Homo sapiens: one gene and its partners. The protein of the gene in region 4 purifies or fractionates together with the protein of the main gene of each other region. This does not show direct contact. Each region holds a gene or a part of one and is shown on either strand. Other genes may lie near its edges.

Region 1 (3,500 bases), on a different chromosome or scaffold from region 4:
CTTTGAGAAAGACTAAGGTTTTATCCATAACTAGAAAAAAACTGGAAAAAAACCCAAATGTTCATCAAAAGGTTAATGAATATCAAAATGTGGCTGATCTATACCACAGGAATAATATTCAGCAGCAAAAATACATTATTGATACATGGAATACATTATTGATATGCAAAAATATGGATGGATCTCAGACTAATTATTTTGAGGCTGGGTGCGGTAGCTTACTCCTATAATCCCAGCACTTCGGGAGGCCGAGGTGGGTGGATCACTTGAAGCCAGGAGTTCGAGACCAGCCTTGCCAAAATGGTGAAACCTCGTCTCTATTAAAAACACAAAAATTAGCCAGGCATGGTGGTGCACACCTGTAATCCCAGCTACTTGGGAGGCTGAGGCACGAGAATCGCTTGAACCTGAGAGGTGGAGGTTGCAGTGAGCTGAGATCGTGCCACTGCACTCTAGCCTTGGTGACACAGCGAGACTCTGTCTCAAAAAAAAAAAATTATTTTGAGTAAAATAAGCCCATCCCAAAAGAGATTTATGTGAAAATAATTTATATAAAATTCCAGAAGATGCCAAAAATAATAAAGCTTCAATGACCTGTGGAAGAGTATTACAATCAAATCATATGTATTTGGAGTCCAAGAAGAAGGGGAAGGAGAGAGAGTGGGAGATAAAAATATTTGAAGAAATAATGGCTGAAATGTTCCACATTTGATCAAAAACATCAACCCACAGCTACAGGAAGCACAGTGAATCTAAAGCAGGATAAATACAAAAAACCCACAGCTGGGCATATCACAGTCAAACCACTAAGAACCAAACATAAAGAGAGAAATCGTAAGTCAGCTAGAAAAACATACTGCACCACCTACAGGGAAATGACAATTTAAAAAAATTTTTTTTAATTTTTTATTTTTTTTTTGAGATGGAGTCTTGCTCTATCACCCAGGCCGGAGTGCAGTGGCACGATCTTGGCTCACTGCAACCTCCGCCTTTCCAGTTCAAGTGATTCTCCTGCCTCAGCCTCCCGAGTAGCTAGGATTACAGGCGCACACCGCCATGCCCAGCTAATTTTTTTGTATTTTAGTAGAGACGGGGTTTCACCGTGTTGCCCATGCTGGTTGTGAACTCCTGAGCTCAGGCAATCCGCCCGCCTTGGCCTCCCAAAGTGCTGGGATTACAGGCATGAGCCACAGTGCCCAGCTTCACACTGCATTTTCTAAATGAATAAAATAAAGCACAGAGAGGTTGAGCAATTTGCCCAAGCCACACAGCCATCAAGAGGCCGAATTGGGATCTGAACCTCAGGATTGCCTGATCTGAACTCTCTAAGGTTCTGTGATTTTTATTTCATCCTCAGGCTGCCAGATGCTTGGTATTATTGCCATTTTCCAGATGGGCGAACTGAAGCTGAGATGGAAAAAGCAACTTGCCTGAGGTACCCCGTGAATCAGCAGAAGTGAGATGAGTTATTTGATTTAATTCTCATAAGCAATCTCTGGGGTACTGAAGGTATTCGTATATTTTGTCATCCAAAAACCAGGGCAGCTCTGAAAGTAAAAGTGGGTGCTACGAGGAATTATGCTGTGGCAAGAGGCATGAATCAGGACAGAGGGATGTCCTATTTTACAGAGGCCCAGAGCAAAGAAGGGTCTTGCTTCCTGGTCCACTACAACTGCCTAGTTGAGCCGTGACAGCACGGATTACTGGTTCCTCACAACGACCATGGGAAGCGTAGATGGACTTGCTGATTCCCCGGCTGGGTGAACTGAGGTGCCCCACCTGGTCAAACTTGCGCTGCTTCTTCTCCAGGGTGCTCACAAGCTGCCGCTGCTGCTCCAGGTCCATGGTGGCGTCGTCCAGCTCCTGCTGCAGCCGGCGGCGGCCCCGCTCCAGCCGATCCACGGTCTCTGTCTTTTCTGCCAGGCGCTGGGTCAGGGCCTCGGCCTCCCGGGCTGCCCGGCGCCGTGCCTCCTCCCCTGCCTCCAGTGCCCCTGCCTCCTCCTCCTGGCGCCGCCGCCACTCGGAAAGCTGAGGGGAGGAGAGAGAGGGTGGTTGGTGGTCACGGCCATGAGTGACCAAGGTGTAAGCTGGTGGTGCTCCATTTCCAGGATGAAGAGACTGAGGCCTGAAGAGGGAAAGGGGTCATTCTGCTGGGCTCTTCTGCCTCTGAGTGGTGTGAAGTTGTGAATACTATGAGCCCTAGTTCTTCCAGGGAATTAAAATTACTCCCTCCAAGATGCAGAGGTGAATCAGACCTGGAGTCTTTCCTGGGGAGCCCCTCGGCTGCTGGGGGAGACACAGAGTCACAGCCAGGGTGATAGGGGTTAAGGTAGCAGTATGGGAGCTATGGAGGTCCACAGGAAGTGCCCAGAATCTGTTTAGAACATTCAGGAGAAACTTCCTGAAGGAGGAGCATTTGAGATGGGTCTTGAAGTATGCATAGAAGTCTGCCAGTTGAAGGATATCTGCAGGCACGTACCATCACTCATTCATTCAATAGGCATTTCTCAACGCCTACCATACATCAGGCCCTATATCAGGCTGTGCTACAGACCTGGATCTAACTCTGATGGGATTCTAGTTTGAAGGGGCTCTCAGTCTGGTGGGGAGACTCATGGGCAGAGACAGTCCCAGCCCAAGGTGACTGGAGTTGGGACAGAGGAGAAAGAGAAGACGGGTCAGGAAACTTCCCACAGGGGAGCCTAATGCTAAGTCTGGAAAAATAAAAGGTTTTTTTCAAATAAAATAGGAAAGTAGAGATAGAGATGAATACAGCTAAAGGCAGAGGAAGGACCAGAGATTGCAGGGCCTCAATGCCTGACTGAGAGGCATGGACTTTGTCTAGGAGTACTGGGGAGGCGTGGGAGAGCTGTGAGCAGAGGAGGGACAGGGTCAGCTCCAGGTAAAGAAAGAAGCTTCTGGGGCTGTGCAGGGGATGAGCTGTTAGGGGAGAGGCTGGAGGCCCAGAGGCCAAGAGGAGGATCTAGATGGGAGAGGACGGCACTGGAGCTGGGGCTGAGCTGGAGCTGGGACAAGGGATGAGGCTGAGAGTCAGGGGTCAGGACAGCCAGGGCTGGGCATGGGCTGTGGGGGGTAAGGGGGAGTCAGAGATGAGAAAGGCACCCATGGGTCTGGCCTATGAGAAGGTGGGCAGCATGGCCATCCCTGAGCTGGGGAACCCAGGAGGAGCAGTGAGGGGGGCTGTGCCTCCCTGAAGGTCTTACGTAGGGCTGCTCACCTGGGCCTGGGCAGTCTGCAGTTCACGGCCCGCCCGTTCCCTGGCAGCTGCCTCCTCCTCCAGCTGCTCACGCAGCCCGGCTGCCTCAGCCTCCATGGCTCGCACCCGGGACCCCAAGGCCAATTTCGCCCTGGTCTCCTCCTGCAGCAGCTCCTGTAGATGGAGGAGACGGCAATGTCAGGTGTGGCTGGGAGGACAAGGAGGGGAGGGTGACGGTGGAGCCGAAGGGCAGGCAGGGTCACCTGGGCATCGTGCAGCTGGG
Region 2 (3,500 bases), on a different chromosome or scaffold from region 4:
GCCATATTCTAGTTGCACTGTACCATAATCAAGTTGGTCTGTATTTGGTTCTGACTTGCAAATGAGCTGCAATGAACCGGTCTTGGACCGAGAGCTTCGGGTGTTCTCTGTATCACGATGGCGAGAAACAGATGTCCTACTACTACGCCAGCCCCGGCTAGGTCTAGATGCAGCAATGGAAACTTCCTGAGGGAGGGCAGAATCGTCTTCTTCCTCTTTTTCTTCCTTGGGATCTAAATAAAAAGACATACCATTCTCTTTAAGTTTACAGTTAACCAATAACCATCCCTGTATATCTACTAATTGTAAATACAGTTGAAGATAAATTAAATATTTTCAAAGGAAAAAAAACTGAAGACTTTAATTGAAATAATAAAAAAAGGAAAATGAGATAAAACTTATCCTTAATGTCATCATGCTAAAGAAATTACTTCATGTTGCAAAGTAGTAATTTTATACTGCCTTATCTTCTAAAAAATGCAATGCTAACTATGCAAAATACACTTAAGTAACTGGATTCATGAAATTCTACCTTTTAGATCTAAGTTAAAAGAAACTAAATTAATTAGTCCCAAAAAGATGACCAGAACTACAGAGGCACCAAAAAGAAAGAACCATAGATCTAGATGTTATTTACAACCAAACAAGTCTATAACAAATTACTAAAGAGGAATTCCTAACAGGAGTACTTTTCACTCTAATCAAGAGTTTTTCTTGGAACCACACCATAAATTTGAACTAATCTATAGAGCAATTGAATGGTAAAGTCCAGCTCTGGTGCTATTCTGTTTCAGTTGTCCTATAAGACATTGTGTACAGGAGCACACACAAATCTGTTATTGTTATCCTATATTTTGTCATGTTTTAAGGGTGAAGTACGGTAGGTCATCCTCTCTTGAGTAGTAAGTAATAAAAAGTTAATCTCAGAAACTGGCTTTCATACCTGGCGTAGCTAAATACTTAGACCTATATAAAAAAAAAGTACATTAGAATTGAGCCCATTTTAACAATAGAAGATTCTTTAATAAACTCAGAACGGGAAAGGCCCAATAATAAAACAAAATTTCAGGTCATAAGATACACATAAAAACAATTTTCCTCATGGCAAAAATCAACCATAAACAAAGTCTAATAACCCAATAGAAAAATAGGAACTAACAGGCCGGGCTCAGTGGCTCACACCTGTAATCCCAGCACTTTGAGTGGCCAAGGCGGGCAGATCAAAAGGTCAGGCGTTTGTGACCAGCCTGGCCAACGTGGTGAAACCCCGTCTCTACCAAAAATACAAAAGGTAGCCAGGCGTCGTGGTGCCTAACTGCAATCCCAGCTACTGGGGAGGCTGAGGCAGGAGAATCACTTGAACCCGGGAGGTGGAGGTTGCAGTGAGCTGAGACTGCGCCACTGCACTCCAGCCTCGGCGAAAGAGCAAGACTCCATTCCAAAAAAAGAAAAAACAAAAAACAAAAGCTCAAAGCTCAATCCACTCAGAACAAGAGACTCAAATGAAAACGATAGCATGACACCATTTTTCATGTATCATATTGGGGATGATCATATTTGACAACATAATGTATTGTCAAGACTGTGGGAAAACAGGTCCTCTAACACACATATGATAATGTATTAGCAAAACCTCCATGCAGACCAATTTGACAATATACATCAAAATTATAAATGTATATACCTTTCCACATGATGTTCAACTACTAGAAATTTATCCTACAAAATTACAATCATATTTATAAATGATTAACATATAGCACTGTTTTTAAGTAGTAGAAGAGTAGAAAACAACATTCAAAGAGGGATTGGTTTCACAAATAATTGTGTACATATGTAAGAGAGAGATATATATGTAAGATATATATACACACAAATATATAACTTATGAAACCAATCCCCCTTTGAATGTTTAGTTGTCTACTCTTCTACTACTTAAAAACAGTGCTACACATTAGTCATTACAGTATGTGTGTGTGTGTGTATATATATATATCTTACATACTATAATAACATTTCTGGAAGAAGTACAAGAAATTCTTAAGTACTGGTTACTTCCAAGGTAGGTCCAAAAATATGTGTAGTAATTTCACCTTTAAGTATATGCCCTAGAAATATAAACTACCACATGGAGGTTAACTGTATTATGTTTATAATAGCAAAGAACAGAAACAACCTAACCCTCTGTCAAAGATAAAGTGCTTAAATAAACCATGATACCTTAGTATGATTGAATACTATATAGAGGTAGGTTTATGTTAAAAATGACATGGAATTATCAGCAAAAATATTGTTAAATGTATAAAAAAGACACAAAACTATATATACAGTATGGCAACATTTTTGCTTAACATTAAAAAATAGTTTACTATGGAGCAATGTGGTGACTATAGGCTATTTTAGCTTTAATTACACTGAAAGTTTTATGACAATATACTGAAGTAATGAAATTAGTTTGAAACACAGAGATAAATAGCAGTGCGAACAGTTCTAAACAACCATCAAAATCAGTTGTGCATTTCCTTTCAGCTGTCTTTTTCCATTCATTATTGCATCACCCTCCTATCTGAGCTATTTTAATAGAAAAAATAAAAAATAAAACATTAATATAGGTGAAAATACCTCAAAGGCCATTCAGTCTAAGCACAATCCATTACGTTTTACCCATAAAGTATCTGGAAGCCCAAAAAAGAAGCTTATTCAAAATCACAAGGTTAGCTAAGGACACCTAGATTTAGAAATCATATTTTGAGATTAATAATGAAGGACTTTTACATATAGGTCATGACTACTTTTAAAACAATTTCATCAAAAAGAACAATTCAACACCACCTATGAAGTATTACAACATTTAATAATAGACACATCTTTTTTTTCCTTAACCCAACTGTACCGAGTTGGACTTTGAACTCACTCCATAACCTCCTGTCCTCAACAAAGCTCCTTTCTTCTTCATGATGAAAGGATGGTATGCCCACAACCTCCTATACTGTAGATTTTACTCACTGGATAAATGATGCCAATTTGATAACAATAGTTTACCATTATGAATAAGGCATAATAGCCTATCTTATTGAATACTACTGCTCCCGTCCCCTAAAAATCTAGTCTTAAAAAAAAACCACTCTGTCAGAGATGACAGCAAAAATGTCCCTCCACAGAAATAAACACATATCATGAACAAACACTGTCAGAATCAACTTTGTGGAAACTCTTAACAATAGTTAAAGGTTATAAAAGCCAAGTGAGCACTGAATCAAGAAAAAGGTGAGTAAAGATGTTTAAGGAAATCTGTCAAATCACTTGATGAATATAAGCGAAAGGACCAGAACCTTTAGAGACCACAGAGACCAAAGTAGGAGCTAAACATTAGGTACTCATGGACATAAAGATGGCAACAACAGAAACTGGAGATTATTGGGGGGAGGTTGAAAAACTATTGGGTACTATGCTCAGTACCTGCATGATGGGATCATTTGTATCCTAAATTTCATATCATA
Region 3 (3,500 bases), on a different chromosome or scaffold from region 4:
CTACTTTCTGCATTTACTGAGTCTCTTCCAATATTTGTACCCCCTCCTGAAACCAAGTCCTTGAGCTCAAACATTCCAGCTTTTTGCTCATTACTCATCATCCTAGAACTGGATTTGTAAGAATCATCTCTTTAAGAGTGTGTATATAGGCCATGCGCAATGGCTCATGCCTGTAATCCCAGCACTTTGGGAGGCCGAGGTGGGCAGATCACGAGGTCAGGAGACCAAGACCATCCTGGCTAACATAGTGAAACCCCGTCTCTACTAAAAATACAAAAAATTTAGCCAGGCGTGATGGCACACGCCTGTAGTCCCAGCTACTTGGGAAGCTGAGGCAGGAGAATCGCCTGAACCCAGGAGGCGAAGGTTGCAGTGAGCCGAGATCGCGCCACTGCGCTCCAACCTGGGCGACAGAGACTCCGTCTCAAAAAAAAAAAAAAGACTGTGTACAGAAAGTAACGCAGGTTAATGAGTTGTTCTAGGAAACAAATATAATGGGTAATGAAGTATTGATCAGATAAATTGCTTGAATCAATAGCAGAGGATAGATGCTTTTTTGCGGGGTGGAATGTCTCATGCTAACTGGTTATGAATTTGGACAGGAACATATCAGGAAAAGCACTCTGTACTCTATTTTTTTTTTTTGTTATTTATATATAAATGACAAATTTAGATTACCTGATTTTCCAAGTATCATCCAAATTCGTATTTCCCAATTGTTCCATTTCTTTATGATGAATTAGTTTCATTTGGTCAGAACATTGTCCTACCTACTTTCTGCATTTGTTTTCCAGCCATGAGTAGTCAATTTATTTCTTATTCTGACTGTCACAACCAGAACTCAAGCCTCAGAGGACAATACTTCATTCAAAATAAAAATAATGTGATTTTTATGACAGTAGAGATAATAATCAAAGGGATAAACTTAGTATCATGTGTGTATGGATGTAGACCTCACAATGTCCTTGATCACTTAGCATAGATAATAACAACTGATAAAGTCTTAAGGTTTCTCAGTGAACATTATTGTAAAGACTACAGTTTAATGCTCTGGGAAGGAGAACATGGGAAAGAAATATTAACAGGTCCCCTAATCCCAGTCTTATCTTCAGAGAAGTCTTTATCCACCTGTCATTAGTCTTCAGAGTCCTGGATTCTAATATCCAGTTTATAGGCAAAGCTTCATCTCACACATCAAGACTTTTAATTTCAGGTGTTGGTGGAAAAATGAAACGAAACAATTTTGAGGACTTACCTTATGTAGCATAAATACCCCATATACAATATTTCCTGAAGCTTGTTTGTGAAGAATATCAATCTTCAGAGTTTCCTTTGCTCTGTTGATGATTTTATTTGGAACCTCAAACGTTTGGTTAGGACCAGCTTCAGATACAGTAGATTCTTCATTGACCTCTAGGAGACTATCATATTCCAAATAATCTGATATGATGATGATTTTCTTTCCATTGAATTTCTCCTTCAAGCTGGTGTTTAAAACCTTCACATGGAAGAACTGTGTCTGTGTAGCCACTGTAGCATGAAACATTATTTTTTTCTCCATTTCTGGGGTCTCATATTCAAATGGCTTTGTTGTACTCAGTACCTTCACTATCACTGGGCGTTTTTGGAGAACATTTCTTCTGGGAGTTACCTGACATTTGGCCACTGTTTTCGGGTTCTGTGTATGATAGCACAGGAGAACAAAGAAAAATGTCTAATTGAGAAATACAGAACTGCTATTCAGTGACCTCAGTATAACACAGGGCCCCAAAACTTGCACAGATGTTTAGAGCTGGAGTCAGGATAGAGAGGGATTGCGAGCCAGGGCAGAAGATATCTTAAACTGGTACAATAGCAAGATGAAGTAACAGAGGAGACCATATAGTGAAAAGATGACCTTTCTGTAAACAGAATCAACCTTAAGAAATAAAGCATAAGAGCAACATAAGACCAGTGGATACTGAAAGCCAGTGTCATGAAGTAACTTAATAAATTTTAGGGCCAGGCGCGGTGGCTCACACCTGTAATCTCAGCACTTTGAAACGCCGAGGCGGGTGGATCACCTGAGATCAGGAGTTTGAGACCAGCCTGGCCAACATGGTGAAACCCTGGCACTACTAAAAGTACAAAAATCAGCTGAGTGTAGTGGCAGGCGCTTGTAATCCCAGCTACCTGGGAGGCTGAGGCAGGAGAATCACTTGAACCCGGGAGGTGGAGGCTGCAGTGAGCCGAGATTATGCCACGGCACTTCAGCCTGGGTGACAGAGCGAGACTCTGTCTCAACAACAACAACAACAACAATAAATAAATAAATAAATTTTAGAATGAAATAATTTCTTATACTATTTCTCTTACCAGCTTAAAGTGCCAGAGCCTAAAAATAGACAAAGTTAAATGACATTTAAAATGATCAATAAATACTAAAAAAAAATAAAAATAAAAAAAAAATGAAAAATGGTGCCCACCACAAACTATAGACACAAAGAGTGTTCAGTTATCACCAGTGTAGACAGGGCAATTTAAAGAGCACATTTCATAGTGTTCCTACCCAAGATTCAGTTTGCTTACAGCAGGTGAGAACACAAGTAGGATAAACCCCTCAGAATGCCATCATCTCAGTAGGTTCAGGCTGCAGAAACTCTACAGAGTGTCATTCCCACCACCATAGCCTTTCTCAGTGTCAGGGCTCTAGCAGGTAGCATGCTAACAGAAACCTGGGGCTCAGAAAGGGTTTTCTTTAACATCTTTACTCTTTAACATCCCAGTCTCCTTAAACTGCGATAGAACAGTTTTAATGCAGGGGAGGTTGTTTAATCTACAAGAAAAAGAGCTGAGGGTATGGATAACCTCATTCACAAACTAGCAGGTGCTGGAGAGGTCTGACATGGAATACTATAGTGAACCAAGGGAAGAGGTATGAAGGACATGGGAGCAGTAGACAGTGAGCCCACAGCTGACAGTTCTGTACTGCATAGCTCTCTCTCCCTTCCCCAAACAACACAGAACAGAAAACTTCCTGCAGTCAGAGATAATGTCAAGTTCATCAAGTATCCCTGTGAAAGCAAAAGATCAAAATGTAGTGGTTTCTCAATATGTACATTGGATTAACTAGCAAATTATCGATGCAATTTTTAAGTAACCGGTGAAATCAGTCCTTTACTTTGGGTTGAAAAAAACAAAGCAAAATGGGACCAGGAAGAGTGTACCTCAGTTGAAGAACTGTTGGGTGGAGCTGACAATGAGGTCTTGGGAGATGGGGAACGGCCCATGGCTGTGGACATGCCGGCTCCTGCAGGAGAGGGAGGCTGAGTCTGTTCCTCGGACACCTTACTCCCTTTGGGTCCAGCCTTTTCTTTGGTTGATTTTTTTCTTTTCTGAAAGTGGTTTGATTTTCCTGTTATTCGTTTTCAGTGCCAAATGAAGTAGAGCACATTTTCATTATTGGATAGTAGTTTTATTATTCCTAAGAAGATGTTTCTTGGAAACTTGAGAGGTTGCTG
Region 4 (3,132 bases):
TTTAAACACCCATTTTTAGAATCGACCTCCTCTGCAAAACCCCAAAGGCTTACTAGGTATTATGCAGGTCCTTAGTTGCAGAAAATTAATTTTGAGGTTGGAAATAAGTTTTAAAATATATTCCATTAACATTGTTTTTCTTGACTTGAACTGCTTTTATTATGCAGTTTTTTTACACTTAAATAATGTGATCTTTTCATACAGAAGTTCCTAATGCATTTTTAAGCTAATTCATAATAAAATTTCTTCATCGATGCACACATTTTCACAAACTAAAAAATGTCACTCAGAAAAAGTGAATCCAACCAGGATTAAGTCTTTTGGGTCTCCTAAACCAAGGAACCCCTGTAGACAGAAGCATGCCCAACTTGCATGCAGGAGACCTGCCTTGGCCTTTACTCTTGCAGTAGTTCTCACCCCTTGGCTAAGGGAGAGGAACCATGGTGAAAAGCATGGCTACAAGCTTCTTACTGGAAAAAATCTATCTTATATATGCATTTTCTAGGACTACCGACACCCACCGAAGAGCTCGGCAAAGAGGAGCATGTGTGTGTTGGGCGTCTCCTGGGTGCTTGTGTGTGAGAAGAGGCTGGAACGCCCCCGGCAGAACACACCAGGCCTGGCTCAGCCTTGGGCCTGGTTGCTCTGTGTTTAGGAATCATCCTAGTTAAAAGATTCGCTTTCACCCTTCTTTGGTTTCATTCTGAGGAAGCAGCACCTTCCAGACTGTGAATTCGGTAAGCGCCTGGAGCCTGCGTTTTATTGTAAGACTCGACGGGTGAACGTGCTGACCCACGTCAGCTGTTGCGTCCCTGGTGTGCCTGTGGTTTCTAGGACCTTGTCTGGCACTGTCGGGTGTCTTCTGCTTCCAGCCTGCCCCAGAAGTACAGTCTCTGACTTAGGACACCTGTGTGGGCATCAGTGCCCTTCTTGAGCCTCTCCTCTTCCCTCTCTGGAACAGTCTATGGGCATCTCCCCACTAGGACTTCCTGCCCACCATCCAGACACACAAGCCCTCCCCCTCCACTGGCTGCCTGGCTATGCAGCAGGTACTGGGGACACCTGGGAATCTTTCCTTTTCTTGGCAGTTGAAGCTTCCTAGTTTGTGCCGAAGAGGGTCTGTCTGGACAGCTGTACTTGCCAGAATTCTGTATCTGAAGAGGTTATTGCTACATGAGTTTCGTTTGCTGAACTCAGAATATGGTAGTTTTAGGTCCAAATTTTGTGTGTGCTAAGAATTAAATTTATATTATATTTTTGTGAATTGCTCACAAAAAGGGAGCAATTCAACCTATTTTTATTTTAGCTAAACCAAGTATTCCCCAGAAGAACACTAATGGAATCTAATCATTCTTATGGATTTGTCCACATGCTTGTAATTATGAGTGGCTCAACTTGATGTGATTTCAGTAGCACTTAAAGTTCATTAGCTTAGATAGTCTCTGGCTGGAGGAGGGTTGGAGGGCAGACGCATCCCCCACTGACCAGGAACTCTCACATAGTGAGCATGTGTCTCAGGGACATCCCAACTTCTGTTCCTTCTGCCTTTCCAAAGAATGCCTTGGAAATTTTTCTGTTTCAATAGTTTTTTTTGGAAAAAGAATTTTCCTGTTTCAAGAGGTGATTTTGAACTACAGAAAGGCTGAAGACATCTACCTACAATTGTATCATGAGGTACATCATAAGCAGTCAGAAATTAGCCACTAGACAAATTCCTTTTCTTTCTGAAGAAAGTCTTCATAACGTGAATTTGCTATTTGAAGTGAAATTCCCAAAGTAGACACAACAAAATATAACTAAAATGACCAAATTTATGTCTTAGCATAATGCTCCTTCCATTAATGTAACTGGGAGCTGGCAGAGTGCTGTTGAAGATAATGCTTTTTGTTTGCCTTTGCAACCTTGGGCAAAAAATACATCAAAACATTCTGTGTCTTTTAAAACAGGGAAACAGTAAATGGCTTACCTTCTTTGGATTTTCTGCACACCTCTTGACACTCCGCGTTACTCTCTGCACAGATTTGCTCTCCAAAGTGCTTGCTGCAGGCTGGCTTTTTGTCTTTCTTGATCTCAGGCACATGGAGTCTGAATTTCCTGCTTCTCCTTTCCCTTTCTGATTCTGCATGAGAACCTTCGCACTCTTCTGCCCTCCGCTCTCCTCTGCCACCTTAGGCTGGGAGCTCTCATTCTGTCTAGCAGACCTCAAGCACCTTTTGTTCTCAGTGACTTTGTCTCTAGGTATGGGTTTCCGGGCTCCATCATCTGGATTCTGAATGTCCATCTCTGGGGAGGTCTTCATGGGCTTCTTTTCATTTCTGTTTATTTCTATTCTTTCTGCTAATACAAAGACCTCAGTTATTTGCTGTTCTGCCTCAGTCTTATTTTGGCGTCTGGAGCGCAGGGATATTCCCTAAAGAAATGAGAAGACATCCACAAAATTCCAATAATTAGTAAAACAAACTTCAAAATTCAACAGGGAGCACAATCAACAGTAACCTAAAAGGAGAAATCATTTGAAAATCACACACTGATGAATTGTCTAAGAGACTTGTCATCTAGGATAGTCAAGGTAATGCCTTGGTACTTTGCTCCTATGGAGAAATGACTGTCTCTGCTGACAAATTATAAATAAGGAATTCAGGATAAATTTCAATAACAATGCCTAATAAGATATATATCAAATCTAATTTTTACAGTTTACATTATAGAAAGAAGGTCCGTTATTCATTCATTTACAGGGAGTAAATGAATTCCTATTCCTTTAACCATCACTGCTAAGGCAGAACAGGAAATTGCCATTTCTGGAGTTTCCCCAAACTTCTCTGCATGCAGTGGGAGCCTCTCTATCTAACAGTCCAGACAGTTTCCCCTTCTCAAGAATACACATTCCTTATTGATATTGTTCTGATAGTTAAAATAGTGACATAGATAGGATTTTTAACCCAGTCCTGGTCTTGGTGACAGTATCCAGAACATAGAACTGAACCACCCACCTATCCTCTGATCAATTTTTTAAACATTTGAAGATGAACATTACTCATTTGGCTTTTGAGAAACTCTTCTAAGTTTGCATTAATCATGTTTGACTAGTTCTTTTCCCATATTAGTCTATTCCCTCTATAGGTCCCAAGA
Region 5 (3,500 bases), on a different chromosome or scaffold from region 4:
TGTGATTATCACTGTATTTGGTTTCACTACTCACGTCCCCTATCACTTCAGAGCCAGGCTCTGCTCAAGAACAGAATGTACTCTGCTTATAGCTATTCACACCCTAAGAGTCCAGATGGTTAAGAACCTACAGACACCCAGGTCCATCCTACATCTCGGCCAAGCTCCCAAGAAATCTAGTCCATGCCACGGCCACTTGGGTCCCACCACTGTGCCTATGACACCTCACCTTTGTGAGACACATCCTTCAGCAACCTGGCTTCGGACTGCACCACATTCCTGTTGCTGAGGAAGATCAGTCGACGGAAGTATCGCTTGTCATCCCCTTGCACATCCTCAATGACATAGTCACCGCTCAAGGGGCTGCAGTCTTGGTGCTGAACGGTCCGGACCCCAATGTCCCCACCCACAGACAGAAAGGGGACCTGAAGGTACAACCAGAGATGTGGTCAAAACAGCAGCTCATTTAAGAAATAAGAGAAATTATAACCCCTTCCCTTTTGTGTGTATATATCCCCATACCACGGTTCTAGACAACAACTACTCCACAGATTTGCCATTCTATTAAAGTACTTTTCTGGAGCCTTTGAACTGATCTCAAAGGTTTAATTCATCTTTTGAAAATCAACTGGACACATAAAGATCTCCCAAACAACTAGTGAGATGCAGCTGATTCTCCCCAAGTTCTTTTAGGGGTTTTTCTCATCAGTAACCCCTAAAAGAACTCTCAATAGTCCAGGATAACAAAAGCTAGAGGGAACCCTCAGGAAGGGGCTGTGATTATGAGAAGGAATCTACACAAGAATAAAGATAACAAAATCCATGGGAGAAACAACCACTCCAAATCTAGAGAGATATTCCTTTCCCCTGATTATTCTCATCTATTTTTCCCCCACTTTTCTGAACCTTAGGAGAAAAATATACTTTCCCCCTAAACTTTCCCACTCCTTCCCCCTATCTTTATTTCTTTTTTTAAAGACCTATAAGACTAGTTAATAATCACCAATATCTCCTGACCCTGCAGACTCAGGCACTGGTGAGAGGCCACAAATGAAGCTCCTCAGAGGATCTGGGCTTCCTTGAAATAGGGGTCATCAACCCCAAAGTTGGCCAGGAAGAATCAAACTTACATTCATCTGTAAACACGAGTCAGCCTAGTGGGCAAAACCACAGGCCAGGAACCCAGGAGCCTGGGTTCTTTTTTTTCAGATCTGTTACTATTTGCACCAAGCCTCTAGATACCTTTGCTTTCCCACCTATCAAGAAGGATCAAAGCTTGGGCAACATAGGGAGACCCTGTCTCTACAAAAAATGTAAAAAAAAAACTAGCCAGGTATGGTGGCTTGCACCTATAGTCCCAGCTACTACCAAAGGCTGAGGTGGGAGGATGGTTTGAACCCAGGAGGTTGAGGCTGAGGCTGCAGTGAGCCGTGATCACACCACTGAACTCCAGTCCAGCCTGGGCAACAGAGCAAGACCCTATCTCAAAAAAGAAAAAAAAGGATCAACTCCTCATCATGAAGTTCTTTTAGTAAAATCACTTGTTCGTTACCCATGGTGACCAGGATAGCACAAGACAGTTGGTGTTAACTGATAATACCATATCACCACTTAGGCAAAAACCTTCGGTTTCCTTCCCAGTAAAACACCTGACCAGCAATGTGAATACCTGGATAACTGTGCTGAGCTGTTTTGGCCCTCTTCCATTTATACCCTCAGATAATGATAGTTCTAAGAAGCAAAATGACCAAGAAAGTCCAGTGTGGAAGGAGAAATCCACAGTCAGAGCAACTCAAATTAGGAAGAACTGAAGCCCGCAATGAGTAGAGCATTTCCATCCTGCCATGTCTATGGACTCTGAGAGGCTCCCCCAGACACAGACGCTACTGTGCTCACTTTCCTCTCATTGCCTGGGGCAAAGGACAGTTTCCCTGCCATTTAACCCTTAGCTGCTGATACCCCTCCAGGATTAGATGAAGAGTCACAGACTCTAGTCCTAGCTCCTGCCAAGGCTCCCTCTGCCTCCCTGGCTGCTAACATGACTTCAGAGACCCATGAAAGCCGTACGAAAGCTTTGTTACCTGCTGCTGGGTGGGCATCCCAGCTGGGGCCAGCTCCATGACTCTAGCCGACAGCTCAGCTTGGATGTGGTCCATGCTTTCATACTGCTGACCTCGGTGAAGGGCCACTGTAATCAACCTCCTGAAGCCAGCACTGGCCGCCAGCTGTTTCCGGCCCTCATCCATGCCAAAGAGCCACTCGGTCTCCCGGCCCTGAGGGACTAGAAAAAAGAACTTGGTTACAGGGAGTCCTGGAAAGTGATCAAGCCCACAACCAATATGGCCCAAACGGCAGGGAGCCAGTCCCTGTCCAAGACCAGCATCTTCCCCAACTGTGACCCACTGAGGAGCTAACAATTCTCTAGTTCACAACATCTAGGGCAAAGCAGCCCATCAGACATAAGGCAGGACCAAGGGTGGAGAAGAAGTGTGGGCATGTCCGTAGGGGAAGGAGGCAGACACCTACCACAAGAAAAACAGCAGTAATGCCAACACAAATAAGCCATGCCAGGCATGACTCCAAGCTGTTGACAAATATATATTAATGGAATCCTCCAACAGTCCAAGATGCAGGTAGTAGTATTATTCCCATTTTTACATATGAGGAAACTGAGAAACAGAAGTTACACTATTTGCCCAACTTCGCACAATAAGTAAATGGTGAAGCTGGGACTCAAACCCAGGCAGTCTAGCCCCAGACTCTACCCACGCTTGTATTCACTGCACTATTTATTTCCACACATGGACAGACAGAATTATAGAATACTTGAAAAACTAGCTCAGTCACCAGGAAACAAATTACCGTAACACCAAGACCATAAACACTTTGCATTTGTCTACAATGTTCCACTTTTGAAAGCACTTCCTCCTACTATCTTTTTTATCCTTATTAAGATAAATCTGATATAACTTACTGCTTTCAGTAATAATGGCTAACATTTACACAGCACTTCCAAGGCCAGGTACCATTTCTAAGAGCTTTTATACTTCTCACAACTACACCAGAGTTACAATCCCATCAAGGCAGAGAAAGAAAAGTAACCTGTCTAATGTCACACCATCAGGAAATGACTGAGCCAAAACTGAAACCCAAACAGTCTGGTTCCAGAGCTCACTTTTTTAGCTGCTACCCTATGCTGCCTCTCCAAATTTTGCAGAGAAGCACAGCAACTTCCCCAGGTCCTGCAGCTCACAGGCTACAGCTGGGACTAGAACCTATGTCTTAGACTTGCTAGTCCAGCATTACTTCCATTACTCCATGCTACAAAGTAACTAGCATCTCTATATCATATGTGACCTCCTAAATTTATCTCTATTCTCTCTCTTCCCTACCAACCCCATTCTCACACTTCATCAAGCCTTTGCAATGGCAGATGAAAAGGAATAGGTCTCAACTCCAAGTAGGTTGCTAGAGAGCTATTACTCTCCTTTCATCATGCC
Region 6 (3,500 bases), on a different chromosome or scaffold from region 4:
ATTCTGCCTACACAAGGCTAAAAGTACCAGGAAGAAAACTGGACAAAAACACATGGTACCCTATATGCTAACCAGCTAACAAGCAAGGAAAACTGGTTTCTAACACAGTGGTTTCAAACTTAAGGGACAGTCAAATACCTAGCACAACCCATTATACTGGCTTTCCCTTTTAAATCTCCACAGGCTGGTCAATCACTTAACTGGTAAAATCAATTTACAGCATGACTCTCCCATCTCCACATTTGCAAAGAGAAAGGTATATGCAACTAGCATCCAGCAATGAAAGAAACGGGGTGGGGAGGGTAAAAGTACCCATTCTGAGACAAATAACTGAACTCAATGATTCTCTTACTGGTTCAATGACTAAACACAAAAAGCCCAAAGACAGTCCTGAAGCCACCACAACCACAAAGGATATTACAAAATTATGAGTCCAGATGAGTGGCTGTCAGGGCTTAGGCATGGGGGAAGCATGGAAAAACAAAAGGCTAGTATATAAGGGAGGGTTTGGGGGATGACGAAACTGTTCTGTATCCTAACTGATAGGGTGGTTACACAAATCTACATATGTTAAAATTCATAGAGCTGTACGCCCCCGCCAAAAGTGAATTTTATTGTATGATTTAAAAATATACATATTTTAAGTATACACAAATTCTTATAGGAGCCTTATTTACATTACCCCCAAAAGGAAAACATCCCAAATATCCTTCAAAGGATGAATGGAATAGACACAATGGTCATCCATCCATGTAATAGAAAACTACCTAGTAATAAAAAGGAACAAAGAATTGAGTTACACAACGACATAGATGAATTGCAAAGATACCATGCTGAGTGAAAGATAAACATCTTAAAAGATCATATAGTACATAATTTCAATTATGACAATATGGAAAATGTCTTATAGGGACAAACAACCAATCAGTGGTTCAGTAATGAGAGGGAGAGAGAGGGCTTGACTATAAACTGGCTGGTCAAGGAAATTTACAATTTTATTATATTTAATTTTTTTTAGAAGAAAAAAGATATAAAGTTTCTAAAAACATTAAGTACAGAAAGCAGACATAAGTTTTAAACACAGTCTTTTGTGCTCAATAAAATCAAGATGAATTCTAGGATCAAGGGATTCCATTAAGAAAACAGAGTTAAGAGGGGGAGCTGAATGTGATAATAGAAGCAAACAAATACTATCAGTGAAGAATGCAAAACCTCACAAATCACAGAAACAGCACAAATAAAATACACTGAAAAATATGTGAGCAGGAAAATTCAAATCCTCCAAATGAAGAGAAAAAGAATAAAGAACCAACAGAACTCAAGGGCAAAGATTCAACATATTTGTTGACATTAATAGAAAAAAGTGGCCTGCAGACAAAGGATTACAGAAAACAATATTCATATTGTACACGTTTTCACATTTACATTCATAATGTAAAAATAAAGAAAAATCTTTTGTGCACACACCAAAAAAACAGCTATTTACAAACAAAAAATGTAGGCTGGCCTCAGAATTTTCCATAATATAAAACCACATAACTGTAAAGCAAGGCTTATACATAGTACTTTAAGTGAAAAGGCTGTTGACTAGAAAGAATTCTATACCCAGCTAAATGGTTGCTTACATATTCTGACCAAAGACATTTTATGGATCTAAAGGCTTGCTAATAAATAATAAGTTAAACAAGGTTCAAAATAGAGCTGTCAAAGGTGGGTTAGGCATTAAAAAGGGTGGCAGCAACGTGACAAAAGAAAAACTTCAGCTGAATTAAATTTAAAGGAGATTAACTGAGCAATGAATGTGATTCACGAATCACAGAGCCAGCCAGAGTAGGCTCTGACATTCAAGCACAGCCCTGTGGTGGAAGTTTTATAGACAGAAAAAGGAAAAGTGATATACAGAAAACGGAAGTGAGATAAACAGCTGGATTGATTACAGGTTGGTATTTGCCTTATTTGAACAGTTGGCTACATTTGATTCAGCCAAAATTTGGTCACTGGCACAAGAGTAGGCTGCGGTCTGTTTATACCTCCACTTGTTATAGTTCGCCATGTACAGAAAAACCTTTAGGCTGGACTTAAAATATGTAAGGAGGCGGCTTTAGGATAAACTTTATTTAACAAAACAATGAAACAATATAAGGGTAATATTAAAGTTTAAATCACTGTTGTGTATATGGCTACAATATATATAATAATACAGCTACAATATATACCTGTCATTAAAAATTTCCTGAAACAACTACATAATATTAACATACCAAATACATTATAACAAAACCAGGATTAAATTTTCAAGTTTGGTAGAAAAAAAAAAAGACACAGAAGGGTGATTATCTCCTCAGTGGTGGGCGAAAGAAAAGTTGGTATTTCCTTGCCATGTATCCTTTGTCCTAAGTAATCTCATCCCACTTCCATGCTATTAACTGTTTAAGAACAAAAGGTCCCCAAATCTGTGACTCGGACATCTAACTGCCTAATCAGAGATTTTGCTGCCTATATTTCTCAAAGGTATCTTAAAATCAGCACAATCTAAAAATGAAGTCTTAACTTGCATCCCACCTTTCATACCTCAAATCATTTCTCCTGATGCGCTACTTGTAATGGCAGTTACAATATGACCACTTTACTTAACTGCTAAACTGAAAGACTCAGTAGCTACTTTTGATCCCATTTCTCTCATTTCTCATATTTAAGTGGGAGAAAACACAATTATATTCAGCAACCCATCTAAAAGGTTCAGCAGAGCCTTAAAGTCATTTGTATTAATTACTCCAAAGCAAAGTTTCCAACAATCCAACACAGCAATCAATAACTAGCACCAGAATCACCTGGAATGTTTATACTTAAAAAGTACACTGCAAGTTCCTTTATCAAATATACCAAGGGATGGGTCTCGAGAATCTGCAATTTCAATAAACACCCCAATTAACACTTATGTGACTTAAGGTTTGGAAACTACTGCTCTAGGGTCATTATTCCAACACCTTCCCTCTGAGGAATGTTGAAGCACTTCCCTGTGCTGCACACAACCACAAAGACAAGATATTCAGCTTCACACACAGAAACAATCACTGATTTTACATAGAGTTAAGTTACCTCTTTATCTTAATTTCTACATAGGAACAAGCATTCCATAAGAACATGCTTTCCATAGTAACAAGCATTATTTACTGGAGGAGCTTCTAACTTTACCCCTACTAAGTTTCAAAAGAAATTTAAATGTATCCCCTATAGAAAAGCCCATCCATTTTCTCTTTCCACCTAAAAATAGGACCCCAATTTTACGTTACAGTTTGGAAGAGAAAACTTTCCCTAGTTGAACTGACTCTTGTGGCCCTGTGATCAAAGTCTAGCCAATATTTGGGGGGCTAATCCCCATATGGGCCACTCAATAGGATATTTTTAAAAAATAAAAATAAAAATATTCTGGCCAATATAATACAAGGATAAACAGCATGTTTTATTTCAGGAATGTCTCCCTCAATCTTACAGAGGGT
Region 7 (2,646 bases), on a different chromosome or scaffold from region 4:
CAAAAAACATCACTTTTCATGCACAGGGATGCACCCACTGGCACTCCTGCACCTCCCACCCTTCCCCAGAAGTCCACCCCTTCCTTCCTCACCCTGCAGGAGCTGGCCAGCCTCATCACCCCAACATCTCCCCACCTCCATTCTCCAACCACAGGGCCCTTGTCTCCTCTGTCCTTTCCCCTCCCCGAGCCAAGCCTCCTCCCTCCTCCACCTCCTCCACCTAATACATATCCTTAAGTCTCACCTCCTCCAGGAAGCCCTCAGACTAACCCTGGTCACCTTGAATGCCTCGTCCACACCTCCAGACTTCCTCAGGGCCTGTGATGAGGTCTGCACCTCTGTGTGTACTTGTGTGATGGTTAGAGGACTGCCTACCTCCCAGAGGAGGTTGAATGCTCCAGCCGGTTCCAGCTATTGCTTTGTTTACCTGTTTAACCAGTATTTACCTAGCAAGTCTTCCATCAGATAGCATTTGGAGAGCTGGGGGTGTCACAGTGAACCACGACCTCTAGGCCAGTGGGAGAGTCAGTCACACAAACTGTGAGTCCATGACTTGGGGCTTAGCCAGCACCCACCACCCCACGCGCCACCCCACAACCCCGGGTAGAGGAGTCTGAATCTGGAGCCGCCCCCAGCCCAGCCCCGTGCTTTTTGCGTCCTGGTGTTTATTCCTTCCCGGTGCCTGTCACTCAAGCACACTAGTGACTATCGCCAGAGGGAAAGGGAGCTGCAGGAAGCGAGGCTGGAGAGCAGGAGGGGCTCTGCGCAGAAATTCTTTTGAGTTCCTATGGGCCAGGGCGTCCGGGTGCGCGCATTCCTCTCCGCCCCAGGATTGGGCGAAGCCTCCCGGCTCGCACTCGCTCGCCCGTGTGTTCCCCGATCCCGCTGGAGTCGATGCGCGTCCAGCGCGTGCCAGGCCGGGGCGGGGGTGCGGGCTGACTTTCTCCCTCGCTAGGGACGCTCCGGCGCCCGAAAGGAAAGGGTGGCGCTGCGCTCCGGGGTGCACGAGCCGACAGCGCCCGACCCCAACGGGCCGGCCCCGCCAGCGCCGCTACCGCCCTGCCCCCGGGCGAGCGGGATGGGCGGGAGTGGAGTGGCGGGTGGAGGGTGGAGACGTCCTGGCCCCCGCCCCGCGTGCACCCCCAGGGGAGGCCGAGCCCGCCGCCCGGCCCCGCGCAGGCCCCGCCCGGGACTCCCCTGCGGTCCAGGCCGCGCCCCGGGCTCCGCGCCAGCCAATGAGCGCCGCCCGGCCGGGCGTGCCCCCGCGCCCCAAGCATAAACCCTGGCGCGCTCGCGGCCCGGCACTCTTCTGGTCCCCACAGACTCAGAGAGAACCCACCATGGTGCTGTCTCCTGCCGACAAGACCAACGTCAAGGCCGCCTGGGGTAAGGTCGGCGCGCACGCTGGCGAGTATGGTGCGGAGGCCCTGGAGAGGTGAGGCTCCCTCCCCTGCTCCGACCCGGGCTCCTCGCCCGCCCGGACCCACAGGCCACCCTCAACCGTCCTGGCCCCGGACCCAAACCCCACCCCTCACTCTGCTTCTCCCCGCAGGATGTTCCTGTCCTTCCCCACCACCAAGACCTACTTCCCGCACTTCGACCTGAGCCACGGCTCTGCCCAGGTTAAGGGCCACGGCAAGAAGGTGGCCGACGCGCTGACCAACGCCGTGGCGCACGTGGACGACATGCCCAACGCGCTGTCCGCCCTGAGCGACCTGCACGCGCACAAGCTTCGGGTGGACCCGGTCAACTTCAAGGTGAGCGGCGGGCCGGGAGCGATCTGGGTCGAGGGGCGAGATGGCGCCTTCCTCGCAGGGCAGAGGATCACGCGGGTTGCGGGAGGTGTAGCGCAGGCGGCGGCTGCGGGCCTGGGCCCTCGGCCCCACTGACCCTCTTCTCTGCACAGCTCCTAAGCCACTGCCTGCTGGTGACCCTGGCCGCCCACCTCCCCGCCGAGTTCACCCCTGCGGTGCACGCCTCCCTGGACAAGTTCCTGGCTTCTGTGAGCACCGTGCTGACCTCCAAATACCGTTAAGCTGGAGCCTCGGTGGCCATGCTTCTTGCCCCTTGGGCCTCCCCCCAGCCCCTCCTCCCCTTCCTGCACCCGTACCCCCGTGGTCTTTGAATAAAGTCTGAGTGGGCGGCAGCCTGTGTGTGCCTGAGTTTTTTCCCTCAGCAAACGTGCCAGGCATGGGCGTGGACAGCAGCTGGGACACACATGGCTAGAACCTCTCTGCAGCTGGATAGGGTAGGAAAAGGCAGGGGCGGGAGGAGGGGATGGAGGAGGGAAAGTGGAGCCACCGCGAAGTCCAGCTGGAAAAACGCTGGACCCTAGAGTGCTTTGAGGATGCATTTGCTCTTTCCCGAGTTTTATTCCCAGACTTTTCAGATTCAATGCAGGTTTGCTGAAATAATGAATTTATCCATCTTTACGTTTCTGGGCACTCTTGTGCCAAGAACTGGCTGGCTTTCTGCCTGGGACGTCACTGGTTTCCCAGAGGTCCTCCCACATATGGGTGGTGGGTAGGTCAGAGAAGTCCCACTCCAGCATGGCTGCATTGATCCCCCATCGTTCCCACTAGTCTCCGTAAAACCTCCCAGATACAGGCACAGTCTAGATGAAATCAGGGGTGCGGGGTGCAACTG

The links.
Region 1: the proteins of MKI67 (region 4) and MYH14 purify together in Homo sapiens (affinity purification with mass spectrometry; one large-scale study listed by BioGRID and IntAct). This does not show direct contact.
Region 2: the proteins of MKI67 (region 4) and ZFP91 purify together in Homo sapiens (affinity purification with mass spectrometry; one large-scale study listed by BioGRID and IntAct). This does not show direct contact.
Region 3: the proteins of MKI67 (region 4) and IFI16 purify together in Homo sapiens (affinity purification with mass spectrometry; 3 studies listed by BioGRID and IntAct, with this or other methods). This does not show direct contact.
Region 5: the proteins of MKI67 (region 4) and METTL13 purify together in Homo sapiens (affinity purification with mass spectrometry; one large-scale study listed by BioGRID and IntAct). This does not show direct contact.
Region 6: the proteins of MKI67 (region 4) and YTHDF3 purify together in Homo sapiens (affinity purification with mass spectrometry; one large-scale study listed by BioGRID and IntAct). This does not show direct contact.
Region 7: the proteins of MKI67 (region 4) and HBA1 purify together in Homo sapiens (affinity purification with mass spectrometry, with the first as the bait; one large-scale study listed by BioGRID). This does not show direct contact.

Annotation. Positions count from the first base shown.
Region 1 is NC_000019.10:50,280,122-50,283,621, reverse strand, and holds part of MYH14 (myosin-14), read right to left. Parts: coding exon 3,481-3,500; intron 3,392-3,480; coding exon 3,239-3,391; intron 2,029-3,238; coding exon 1,780-2,028; intron 1-1,779. UniProt on the Homo sapiens protein: Cellular myosin that appears to play a role in cytokinesis, cell shape, and specialized functions such as secretion and capping.
Region 2 is NC_000011.10:58,606,563-58,610,062, reverse strand, and holds part of ZFP91 (E3 ubiquitin-protein ligase ZFP91), read right to left. Parts: intron 234-3,500; coding exon 24-233; intron 1-23. UniProt on the Homo sapiens protein: Atypical E3 ubiquitin-protein ligase that mediates 'Lys-63'-linked ubiquitination of MAP3K14/NIK, leading to stabilize and activate MAP3K14/NIK. It thereby acts as an activator of the non-canonical NF-kappa-B2/NFKB2 pathway.
Region 3 is NC_000001.11:159,016,407-159,019,906, reverse strand, and holds part of IFI16 (gamma-interferon-inducible protein 16), read right to left. Parts: intron 3,375-3,500; coding exon 3,207-3,374; intron 1,679-3,206; coding exon 1,256-1,678; intron 1-1,255.
Region 4 is NC_000010.11:128,099,292-128,102,423, forward strand, and holds part of MKI67 (proliferation marker protein Ki-67), read right to left. Parts: intron 2,411-3,132; coding exon 1,967-2,410; intron 1-1,966. UniProt on the Homo sapiens protein: Protein that associates with the surface of mitotic chromosomes and acts both as a chromosome repellent during early mitosis and chromosome attractant during late mitosis.
Region 5 is NC_000001.11:171,784,660-171,788,159, reverse strand, and holds part of METTL13 (eEF1A lysine and N-terminal methyltransferase), read right to left. Parts: intron 2,282-3,500; coding exon 2,082-2,281; intron 426-2,081; coding exon 230-425; intron 1-229. UniProt on the Homo sapiens protein: Dual methyltransferase that catalyzes methylation of elongation factor 1-alpha (EEF1A1 and EEF1A2) at two different positions, and is therefore involved in the regulation of mRNA translation.
Region 6 is NC_000008.11:63,189,121-63,192,620, reverse strand, and holds part of YTHDF3 (YTH domain-containing family protein 3), read right to left. Parts: intron 1-3,500. UniProt on the Homo sapiens protein: Specifically recognizes and binds N6-methyladenosine (m6A)-containing RNAs, and regulates their stability. M6A is a modification present at internal sites of mRNAs and some non-coding RNAs and plays a role in mRNA stability and processing.
Region 7 is NC_000016.10:175,377-178,022, forward strand, and holds HBA1 (hemoglobin subunit alpha), read left to right. Parts: upstream 1-1,303; 5' UTR 1,304-1,340; coding exon 1,341-1,435; intron 1,436-1,552; coding exon 1,553-1,757; intron 1,758-1,906; coding exon 1,907-2,035; 3' UTR 2,036-2,146; downstream 2,147-2,646. UniProt on the Homo sapiens protein: Involved in oxygen transport from the lung to the various peripheral tissues.